3 linked regions of the Homo sapiens genome follow. The protein of the gene in region 1 purifies or fractionates together with the protein of each later gene. This does not show direct contact. Each region holds a gene or a part of one and is shown in the gene's direction. Other genes may lie near its edges.

What was found.
Region 2: the proteins of ELAVL3 (region 1) and CRTAP purify together in Homo sapiens (affinity purification with mass spectrometry, with the first as the bait; one large-scale study listed by BioGRID). This does not show direct contact.
Region 3: the proteins of ELAVL3 (region 1) and RO60 purify together in Homo sapiens (affinity purification with mass spectrometry, with the first as the bait; one large-scale study listed by BioGRID). This does not show direct contact.

The regions. Positions count from the first base shown.
Region 1 is NC_000019.10:11,478,894-11,482,644, reverse strand, and holds the start of ELAVL3 (ELAV-like protein 3), read left to right. Parts: upstream 1-1,598; 5' UTR 1,599-2,036; coding exon 2,037-2,045; intron 2,046-3,751. UniProt on the Homo sapiens protein: RNA-binding protein that binds to AU-rich element (ARE) sequences of target mRNAs, including VEGF mRNA. May also bind poly-A tracts via RRM 3. May be involved in neuronal differentiation and maintenance.
Region 2 is NC_000003.12:33,134,392-33,138,042, forward strand, and holds part of CRTAP (cartilage-associated protein isoform 1 precursor), read left to right. Parts: intron 1-3,651. UniProt on the Homo sapiens protein: Necessary for efficient 3-hydroxylation of fibrillar collagen prolyl residues.
Region 3 is NC_000001.11:193,076,610-193,080,260, forward strand, and holds part of RO60 (RNA-binding protein RO60), read left to right. Parts: coding exon 1-38; intron 39-303; coding exon 304-441; intron 442-3,651. UniProt on the Homo sapiens protein: RNA-binding protein that binds to misfolded non-coding RNAs, pre-5S rRNA, and several small cytoplasmic RNA molecules known as Y RNAs.

The DNA.
Region 1 (3,751 bases):
ACCAGTTCGGGGGATGAGGCGGGGCCCCAGCTATGCCTCAGTTCCTGCTGCGGACCGGGGGGCTACCCCAGCCGGGGACAGAAGAATCGGCAAGGATGAGCGAGTCCGGCCGCTGGGGCCGCCCCCGCGAGCTCCCTCCCCCCGCGAGGCAGGTCCCCTCCACTCTCCCCGCACTGCCGGAGCCGGCAGGTTTCCATGGGAACCGCAGCGGGGTCCGCGCGCCCAGGAGCAGCCCCCCTCCTAGCTCAGTTTCCGATGACGGAAACCGGGAGGAACACGGGGTGGGGAACAGACCATCGCTTGGGGCCCCTAGCGCCCGCAGCCAGGTCGCCCCGGCGAGCCCAAGAGGGGCCACCCGGGGATCTGCACCGCCACCGCCCCTATTGCGCGGGCCACTGCGATTGGCCTGCCCTTTCCAGGCGTGGCAGCATCCCCTGGTGCGCGCACTCCCATTGGCTCGATCTCTAGGGCATCTTCCAGTAACTGGTTATCTCAAGGGCCGCCCCTGATTGGGCAAATTAGGCTCTCCTCGCTGGTGGCGCTCTCTGACAGTCTGGAGCCTAAAGGGCGTGCAGGAACGAGGATTGGGTGGGGACTGCCGCTCTCCAGTTAGGGGGTCTGGGCTACCTCGCCGGCAGCGCCCTCGACCGGACTGTCGGATTGCTGTCTGTGGTGCTGAAGCCTCACGCCCTGGCGACCCCGCCCCAGTGTGTGCTAGTTCCCGCGCCCCGACGTAAACATGCACCGGCGCCCGCGCACCAAAGGAGGCTGCGCCACCCCCAACGCCTTAGAGAGAGGCCAGGTTCCCCCTAGCAGAGAGCGAGCATGACTCCACAGTCAGGAGGACCAATCACGAGCCTAGAAAGCCAGGACATTTATGTGGCAGATCCACCCACCCCAGTTCTGTGGGGTCCAAGAAGGATCCGTGGTTTCCCAGAGCTGCATGGCTCCAGCGATGATTGTCCAGAACACTGAGCCCCAAACCTTTTCACCCCCTTCGGAGCAGTGCGGAGTTTCCTTGCACTGGGGAGTGCCAGTCCTTACCTTTTGAACCCTAGAAGGATCCAGCTCACTCAAAACCAACAGCGTCCCAGTCTCCTTCTGCAGAAGACTAGGGCCACAGTAGCCACCCTCCCCCGTGGTCTTGAGGTGGTCTACACTGGTGCCTCCAAATCTGGGGACCCAGGCCTCTGCCTACTAAAATATTGGTTCCTGATCCCCTGTCCAGTTCCCTCAGTGGACAACACCTCTGGAAGGTCGCATATTCAGGCCACTAATACCTCCTCGCTCTGTTGGCTCCTCCAGCTCTAGGAGCTGGACGGAGGAGGGGAGCCCGTCTCCTGGCCCGAAAGCCAGCCCAAGAAGGGGTGCCAGGGTAGGAAGCAAGGGCCTCGAGGGAAGGAGGGCCCAAATCTGGCAACCCGAGCACCTAGGATGCGCTTTTGGGGGATTCAGAGTCCCGACCAGTGCGCGCTCACTTCCACCTGCCGCGCCGTCGGGAGCCGCGAGGAGGCGGAGCTCGGTCGCCGCAGCCAATGAGCGACGCCGGCGCTGGCAGCTGCTGCTATAAAGGGCTGGGGGCGGCGGCGGCGCGGTCCAGAGCGCGGAGCGCGCAGCGCGGGCCGGAGGGAGGGAGGGAGGGTGGGCGAGGGGAGAGGACTTGAACACACGGGACCGGACAGGACCGACCGAGGGGCGGCGGCGAAAGGCAGAGCGCCGCGATCTCTGTCGGGAAGCGCAACCTCCCCGGGCCCCGCGGGGCCGCGCAGGGGGCGTCCTCAACCCCGCGCCCGCTCCCTCTTTCCATCCCCTGCCGCCCGCAGGCCACCCCGGGGCCCGGCCATCCGCGCGCGCATCCCCGGGTTCGGGCCCGTCCCTGGCCCTCGAGGGAGCCGCCGCCTTCATCGCCACATCTGCAGCGGCCGCACCAGAGGCCGCCCGGGCGGGACCCCAGCGTGAGCATCGGGCGCCCCCCTAGGAGTGCACCACCCCCGGAGCCCCCCTCAACACGGACCGCGCCCGCCGGGCACACAAGAATGGTCACTGTAGGTATTCCCCTGTCGCCGAAAGGGAATCGGGACGGGGAGGAGTTGGGCCCAGGCTCCGCGGAGATTGGGCGGGTGCGGCGGGGGGGGTAGGACCAGGCCTAGCTAGGCCCGGGTTGGGGGGGTAGGACCAAGCCTCGGGGCCTGAGAGTGGGCAGGGCCGCGCCCAGAGTGCTGAGGGCGCTTAGAGCTTGGTCTGAGAGGGCCTTAGGGAGACTGACTGCGATTCGGGAGGCGTCCGACGCCGCCCTGGAGGCGGGATTGCCCCCTCTCCAGCAGGCCTGATGGGGGAGGGGCCGCGGCGGCTAAGGATGCTTCCTCCATCCAGGCCCAGACCCCGCAGGCCGCCCAGGCAAACGCAGGGCCCGATCACTGGTGCTGGGCCAAGCCAAAGCGACAAAGCGTCCCCGAGAGCCCTGGGAAAGCGGGTGGCGTCGGATCGCGCGCCCCGGGCCTCGGCCGCACCCGGGAGGCGGGCGTCTCGTCCTCGAGCCCGTCGACCTTGCGGCAAGCGGGGAGGGGAGAGGAGGGGGCGCGCCCGGAGGCCCCGCGGGCCCGCCGCCGCTGCTGCCGCGTCCCTTTGTTTCTCGGCGCTTCTTCGCGGGCCGCAGCCTCGCGCGGGCGCCTCGGGCTGCGGGGAGGGGGAGGGGAGAGGAGGGCCCGCGGGTTGGGGGGGCACCTCTGGGCTCCCGGGTCTCCGCCCCCCGGGAGATGGGGTGGGAGGCCGAGACAGCCCCCTTAGGCCAGGTCCAGGCTCCCCACCTCGCCAAGGCTCTGGGCCGCGAGGTGACCTTGAGCGCGGCCCGCCCGCCTGCTCGCCCGCACCGCTAGCCCCGCGCTCGGTGCTTTCAGCAGCCACGGAGCTGGTCAGCTCCCGAGCGCGCAGCCCCTCCCGCCCTGCCACGCCCTGCCTGGCCACGCCCGGGCACGCCCATCTAGGCCCCGCCCCCAGGGCCCCGGGGGCCCGGCCTCGCCCGAGCCCTCGGATTCCCACTCGGCAGCCCGGGCGTATCCCGGGGGCGGGGCTGGCCAGTTATAGCCCCACCCCGGCTCCACCCCCGCCCCTGCCGCGCGACTCCGCTCCCCGCGCCGCCGCGCGTCCTTTGTCTGGTCCCGGCGCCTGGGCCTCCCTCTTCCACTCTTCCTATCTCTCCGTCTCTGCGTGTGTGTCTCTGTGCATTGTGTCTCTTTCCGGGCCCCTTTTTCGAGTCGTGGCTAGCACTGGGGGTGGGGGCATGATTGGCGCTCCCTCCATGCCTAAGCCTCTCCCCTCCTGGACCCTGGGACCCGCCCACCTGGCTCTGAGAAATGAGGTCCCGGAGGCCTGGCTCACCTGCTGTGTGACCTCAGGCCGTTCCTTTCCCTCTCTGGGCCTCGTGCTGTTCACCCAGGTCTGGGAACTGGAGTGTGGCCTCCTGAGGACCTCAGAACTCCCGCAACAGTCCAGCATCTCCTAAGCGTCCTCTGATCGGTTCTCTCATTTGAAAAAGGAAACTAATGCACAAAGGGAAAGAGGGTGTGGTCAGAGGTCACACAAGGGCCTTGAGGACCTAGGTTCTCCAGTGAGCGAGCCCTGGGGCAGAGATGTATCATGGGGACAGGCTGGGAGGAAGAGAGGTGACAAATTAAGACCAGGAGGACCCTGCATTGAAGAAGGGCCCAGAAGTAGGAGGCTCAGTCAGCACCACGTGGTAGCCCAGCCTCAC
Region 2 (3,651 bases), on another chromosome or scaffold:
TCCTGTGGGTGTTTCAGTGACAGTCAGAATGCTGGCATGGGAAAGAGCGGCTTTCTAGGAAACCTAGGCAGGAGTGCCACATTTCCTGATAGCGAAACGGGTGTGGGGCCACACTCCAGGAATTCACAGTGGTCATTCTTCATCTTTTCACTTTATATAAAAACAGTGAATTTTTAATTGCTCAGCACTCTGAAGAGACATGGATACTCACACCCCAATTTTTCTGCTAGACTATTGCTATTATTATTTTTTCTAAATTGCATCTTTACTGTAAGCATTTTGTCATTCTCTAGAATTGCTTGAAATTCCTGATTCCACCTTACTCAGCTGACCCCTTTTCTGACCCTGACTCAACTGGTTATGGAGTGGTCATTTTGTGATGAGTCTGGTCACAGAAAAGCCATCATTAGCGGTAGTATTTAGAGTATTTGTTTGGAACAAACTGGAAAATGCTTACTGAGAAAGCTGGGGACTTGTCAGCTATTGGAGCTCGAAGAGAGCTGTGAGCTTGCTCTGGTCTGATCCTTCGCTTTATAGATGAGGAGCATGGGGCCAGCAAGTTTCCTGAGCCTCCAGGTCTGCTCTTCCTATACCCGTTTTAGGTGAAGTACCTCTGAATAAGACATCTTCGTGGAATTTGTTTTCTGTCTATAAATATGTATGGGATGAACTCATCACTGGCATTAAACAACTGAGTCTCAGTTCTTTATCTATAAAATGGGAATAATAATACTGCCCTCCCAGGGTTGTGAGAATAAAATACTGTGTTGCATGTGGAAATGCTTTCTAAACTGGAAAGTGATGCAATGCCTATGTCTTGGTTTGGGTATCCTTGAAGCAGAGCCTGAGACAGGATCCCAAGATGCCACAGGGGCCATTCCCCCATTCCCTAAAGGAAGGAACACCAGCCAGATACCAACAAGATTGGCCACTGTGGTTTACAAAGTATAGCAGAGGCTGGGTGTAGTGGCTCACACCTGTGATCTCAGCATTTGGGAGGCCAAAGCAGGTGATTGCTTGAGACCAGGAGTTCAAGACCAGCCTGGGCAACATGGTAAAACCTCGTCTCTACAAAAAATACAAAAAAATTAGCTGGGTATGGTGGAGTGCACCCGTAGTCCTAGCTACTTGGAAGGCTGAAGGAGTCTGGGGAGTTTGAGGCTGATATTGCGCCATTGCACTCCAGACTCGGCAATTGGAGTAAGACCCTGCCTCAAAAAAAAAAAAAAGGAAAGTATAGAAAAATATATTTAGAAAAGGTAAGAGAAGTTGAGTTCCCAGTTATCTAGAGGCAAGCTAATATGGATATTTTGGTATATATCTTTCCATTTTTTTATTATTAAAGAAAAAATTTTATAGTTTTAAATTTGTTTTTCTACATATTTATTATAAACTCAGCTATAATTATGTCTCATGACTTTTTCACTTTATATTATTATGTGAGCAGTTTCTCTTGTTATATTTTTCTAAAACAGCTTTATTTAGATATTATTCACAAAAAATGAAATTCTCCTTTTTAAAGTATACAATTCAGTTGTACTTGTTATATCCACAAAATTTTGCATCCATCACTGTTATTTAACTTTAGAACATTTTTATTGCCCCCAAAAGAAACTCCATAGCTAAGTCACTTCCCATTTCTCCTCTGGGCCAACATTCCCACTCCTGCCTCCACCTCCAGCCCCTGGAAGACTCTAATCTACTTTCTGTTTCTGTGGATTTGCCTGTTGTGGACATTTCATATAAATGGAAATATAGGGTATGTGGTCTTTTGTGACTGGCTTCTTTCACTGAGCATATGTTTTCAAAGTTCAGCCATGTTGAACATGTTGCCTGTAAAATTTCCTCTGTACTACCAAGTAATATTCTTCTTTTGGATGTACCGCATTCTGTTTATCCATTCTTCAGTTGATGGATGTTTGGGTTGGTTCCACTTTTTGGCTATTTTGAATAATGATGCTATGACCATTTGTGTACAAATTTTTGTTTGAACATAAGCTTTCCAGTTTTTTATACCTAGGAGTATATACATAGGTATTATGTTAGGCCATTTTTGCATCACTGTAAAGAAATACCTGGCTGGGTGCAGTGGTTCATGCCTGTAATCCCAGCACTTTGGGAGGCCAAGGCAGGAGGATTGCTTGAGCCCAAGACTAGCCTGAGTAACATAGTGAGACTCTGTCTCTACAGAAAATTTAAAAGTTAGCTGGGCATGGTGGCACAGGAAGTGTGGCAATGGCATCTGCTTGGCTTCTGGTGAGGTCTCAGGAAGCTTATGGTCATGGCAAAGGGGGAGCTGGCGTATGTCACATGGCAAGAGCATGCCACACTCTTTTAAACAACTAGATCTTGTGTGAACTCAGAGTGAGAACTCACTTATTATCATGAGGACAGCACCAAGACATTTTTGAGGCATCCGCCCACCTGACCCAAATACCTTCCACCAGGCCCCACTTCCAACACCGGAGATTACATTTCAACATGAGATTTGGAGGGGACATATATCCAAACCATATCAGGTACATACCTAGGAATGGATTGCTGGGCCATATGGTAATGGTTTAACCTGTTGAGAAACTGCCAGACTGTTTTTCAAAGTGGCTGCACCATTTACATTCCCATCAGCAGTGTATGAGAGTTCCAACTTTGCAATATCTTCAACAAAACTTAATATTGTCTTTTTTTTTTAATAGCCATGCTAGTGGATGCAAGTAGTATTTCATTGTGGTTCTGACTTCCACTTTCTGTTGTTTTTCTTTTCTTTTTGAGACAGAGTTTTGCTCTTGTTGCCCAGGCTGGAGTGCAATGGTGCGATCTCGGCTCACTGCAACCTCCGCCTCCCAGGTTCAAGTGATTCCCTGCCTCAGCCATCCTAGTAGCTGGGATTACAGGCGCGCACCACCACACCCAGCTAATTTTTTGTATTGTTAGTTGAGATGGAGTTTCACTATGTTGGCCAGGCTGGTCTCAAACTCCTGACCTCAGGCGATCCACCCGCCTCAGCCTCCCAAAATGCTGGGATTACAGGCGTGAGCTACTGCACCCAGCTTGACTTGCACCTTCTTAGTGACTATGTTGAGCATCCCTTCATGATTGGCCATTTGTATATCTTTGAAGAAATGTCTATTCAAATCTTTTGTCCACTTTAAAATTGTTACTTATCTTTTTATTATTGTGTTGTAGAAGTTCTTTAGATATTCTAGTTATAAGTTCCTTATCAGATATATGAATTGTAGATATTTTCTCACAATTTGTGGGTTGTCTTTTCAGTTGCTAAATGGTGTCTTGAAGCACAAGTTTTCAAATTTGATGAAATTCAATTTATCTGTTCTTTCTTTTGTTGCTTTTGTGTTGTGTGTCATATCTAAGAAACCATTGCCTAATCCAAGGTCACAAAGATTTACTCCTGATTTTTACTCCTACGATTTTTGTAATTTTAACTCCTGCATTTAAATTTACAACCCATTTGAGTTAATTTTATGTGTGATATTAGGAAGAGGTCTAGTTTCATTCTCTTGCATGTGAATAGCCAGTTGTTACAGCACTATTTGTTGAAAAGACTTTTTCACCATTGAATTGTCTTGGTACCCTTTGAAAGAAATCAGTTGACCATAAATGTGAGAGTTAATTTTCCAGACTCTCAGTCTATAC
Region 3 (3,651 bases), on another chromosome or scaffold:
TATGTGAAAAACTGTGTAATGAAAAACTATTAAAAAAGGTAAGCATTATCATTGTTCTTTATTAGCTACTACTAACTGAGAAAGTGGCTCCTAAATTTTAGAAATGCCGTCAGTGCATTTTTAAGGTATTTCGAGATGTTCATTATACCAAATTGCATTATGGCTCTTAAGTGTAAGTTTAATACATTTTCATTTTTCTCTTTTCTATATGAAATGTAGTTATTAGCTACAATAACACAAAAATCTAAGGAGTATACATAATCACTGTTTTTTGCTAAAATTTTCCTTATACTTTGTTTCTAGGCTCGTATACATCCATTTCATATTTTGATCGCATTAGAAACTTACAAGACAGGTCATGGTCTCAGAGGGAAACTGAAGTGGCGCCCTGATGAAGAAATTTTGAAAGCATTGGATGCTGCTTTTTATAAAACATTTAAGGTAGTGATATGATTTTTGTTTTAAAACAAATGACTGAAGACTTAATATCTTTTGTAATAATACATTTTAAAGGTAGTATTAATAGTTTAATCATTTTTTAATTAGGTATTCATTTGTTTTTCTTTAGTTCATATGTGGTGAGTATATAATTAATATCGTGTAAGTTTAAGAGTAAAGTATTTCTCTTTACCTTTGGGTAGCAACTAATTATTCTAAGATCATTTTGGTAACTTTTAAGTTACTAACTGTATTAGTTTGTTCTCACAGTGCTATAAAGAAATACCTGAGACTGAGTAGTTTATAAAGAAGAGAGGTTTAATCGGCTCATGGTTCCACAGGTTGTAGAGGAAGCACAGTGGCTACTGCCCTGCTTCTGAGGATGCCTTGGGAAACTTACAATCATGGCAGAAGGGGAAGCAAACACGTCCTTCTTCACATGGCAGCAGGAAGAAGTGATGAGCATAAGGGGGGAAGCTCCTTATAAAACCATCAGATCTCGTGAGAACTCATTCACTATCACAAGAACAGTATAGGGGAAATCGCCCCCATGATTCAATTATCTCTACCTGGTCCCACCCTTGAACATGTGGGGATTATGGGAACTACAATTCAAGATGAGATTTGGGTGGGGACACAGCCAAACCATATCAACAATCTTGGCAGAAGGGGGAATATGGTGCTAAACTATTAGAAACTGCCCCCATGATCCAGTCACCTCCCAGAAGGTCCCACCTTCAACATTGGGGATTACAGTGAACATAAGATTGGTGTGGAGACACAAATCCAACCCATATCACTAACTTTAGAAATTTGCATTCCTGTCAGGTCCTTTGACTTGGTCCTCTGTTTTCCCCATTAATTGGTAGATAGATCTCATCAGTCTTGATAAAAAATGAGTTTTTTAGTAATGGAAATCTCACATCAAAGACACAAGCTAAAACATCTTGCTATATAACAAAATACTAGCAACCAAAGTCAGCAGCAAAATAGAAGGATTACATACTATAACCAAGTGATATTCATCCCTGGCATACAAAGATAGTACAACATATGACAACCAATCAATGTAATACATCACATTAGTAGAATGAAGTGACAAAAACCACATAATCATCTTACTGATGCAGAAAAAGCATTTCACAAATTTCAACATTCCTTCATGATGAAAAATAAAACCACTAAACCTGAAATGAACTTCCTCAACATGATAAAGTCCAGAGATTTAAAAAACAAAGATGTTTAAACCCCATAGCTAATGTCATAATGGTGAGTGATTGTAAGATTTTCCCCTAAAATCAAGAAAAAGACAAGGATGCCCAGTTTTTCCACTTTAATTCCACATAGTATTGGAAGTTGTAGTAATAAGGCAAGAAAATGAAATAATGAAAGACATTGCAATTGGAAAGAAAGAAGTAAAATTATCCTCAGATGCCATGATCTTGTATTTAGAAAACCCTAAAGTTAACAAATGAATTCAGCAAAGTTACAGGGTATAAAACCAACACATAAAAATCAGTTGTATTTCTATATACTAGCAATGAACAATCCAAAAAAAGAAATTAAGAAAACATTTCCATTTACAAGATCATCAAAAAATAAAAGACAGGAGTAAATTTAAGAAGCTGTAAGACTTATACACTGAGAACTACAAAACATTGCTAAAAGAAATTAAGTCATGAATAAATAGAAACACATCTGTGTTTACAGATTGGAAGACTTAATATTGTTAAGATGACAATACTATCCAAAGCAGCCAATCTACAGATTGAATGCAGTCCCTTTCAAAATCCCAATGGCATGTTTTACAGAGATAGAAAAACCCATTCTAAAATTCCTAAGAAATTTCAAGTGACCCCAAATAGCCAAAACAATCTTTAAAAAAAGAACAAACCTGGAGGACTCTTCAGTAACTCTTTCAGTTACTACAAAGCTGCAGTAATCAAAACAGTGTGGCACTGGCAAAAGAATAAACATATAGACCAATGAAATAGAAAGTCCAGAGATAAAACCTTGCATATATGTTCAGTTGACTTTTTTTTTTTTTTTTTTTTTTTTGAGACAGAGTCTCACTGTGCCACCCAGTTTGGAGTGCAGTGGTGCAATATCAGCTCACTGCAACCTCCGCCTCCTGGGTTCAAGTGATTCTTATGCCTCAGCCTCCCAAGTAGCTGGGATTACAGGCATGCGCCACCACACTCAACTAATTTATTCCATTTTTAGTAGGGACAGGGTTTCACTGTGTTGGCCAGTCTGTTCTTGAACTCCTTGCCTCAAGTGATCCGCCCACCTTGGCCTCCCAAAGTGCTGGGATTACAGGCGTGAACCACTGCATCTGGATGTCTGTTGACTTTTGATAAGGGTGCCAAGATGATTCACTGGGGAAAGGACAATCTTCAACAAATGGTATTGGGAAAACTGCATATCCACATACAAAAGAATGAAGTTGGACCATTATCTTACACCAAATACAAGAATTAGTTCAAAGTGGATCAGTGACTAAATTTAAGAGCTAAAACTAGAAAACACCAAAAACACAGGCAGCAAAAGAAAAAATAAATTGAACTTCATCAAACTTAAACATTTTGTATATTAAAGGATACTATCAAGACAGTTAAAAGATAATCTACACAATGGGAGAAAATATTTGCAGACCATATGTCCGATAAGGGCCTAATATCCAGAATACTGAAAACTACAAATTCAGCAAAAGTACAAACCCAATTTAAAAATGGGCAAAGTACTTGAATAGACATTTTTCTAATGATATACAAATGAGTAATAAAAACATGAAAAGGGCCAGGTGCAGTGGCTCACGCCTGTAATCCCAGCACTTTGGGAGGCCGATAAGGGTTGATCACCTGAGGTCAGGAGTTCGAGACCAGCCTGGCCAACATGGTGATACCCCGTCTCTAAAAAAAAAAAAAAAAAAAATTAGCTGAGTGTGGTGGCGGGCGCCTGTAATCCCAGCTACTCATGAGGTTGAGGCAGGAGAATCTCTTGAACCCAGGAGGTGGAGGTTACAGTGAGCTGAGATTGTGCCGTTGCACTCCACCCTGGGCAACAAGAGTGAAACTCTGTCTCAAAAAACAAAAAAAAAACATGAAAAATACTCAACATCATTAATAATCAGAGAAATGCAAATCAAGATGACAGTGTAATAACTACTTCACATCTAGTTGGATAGCTAATATCAAAAAAGCAGAAAACAAG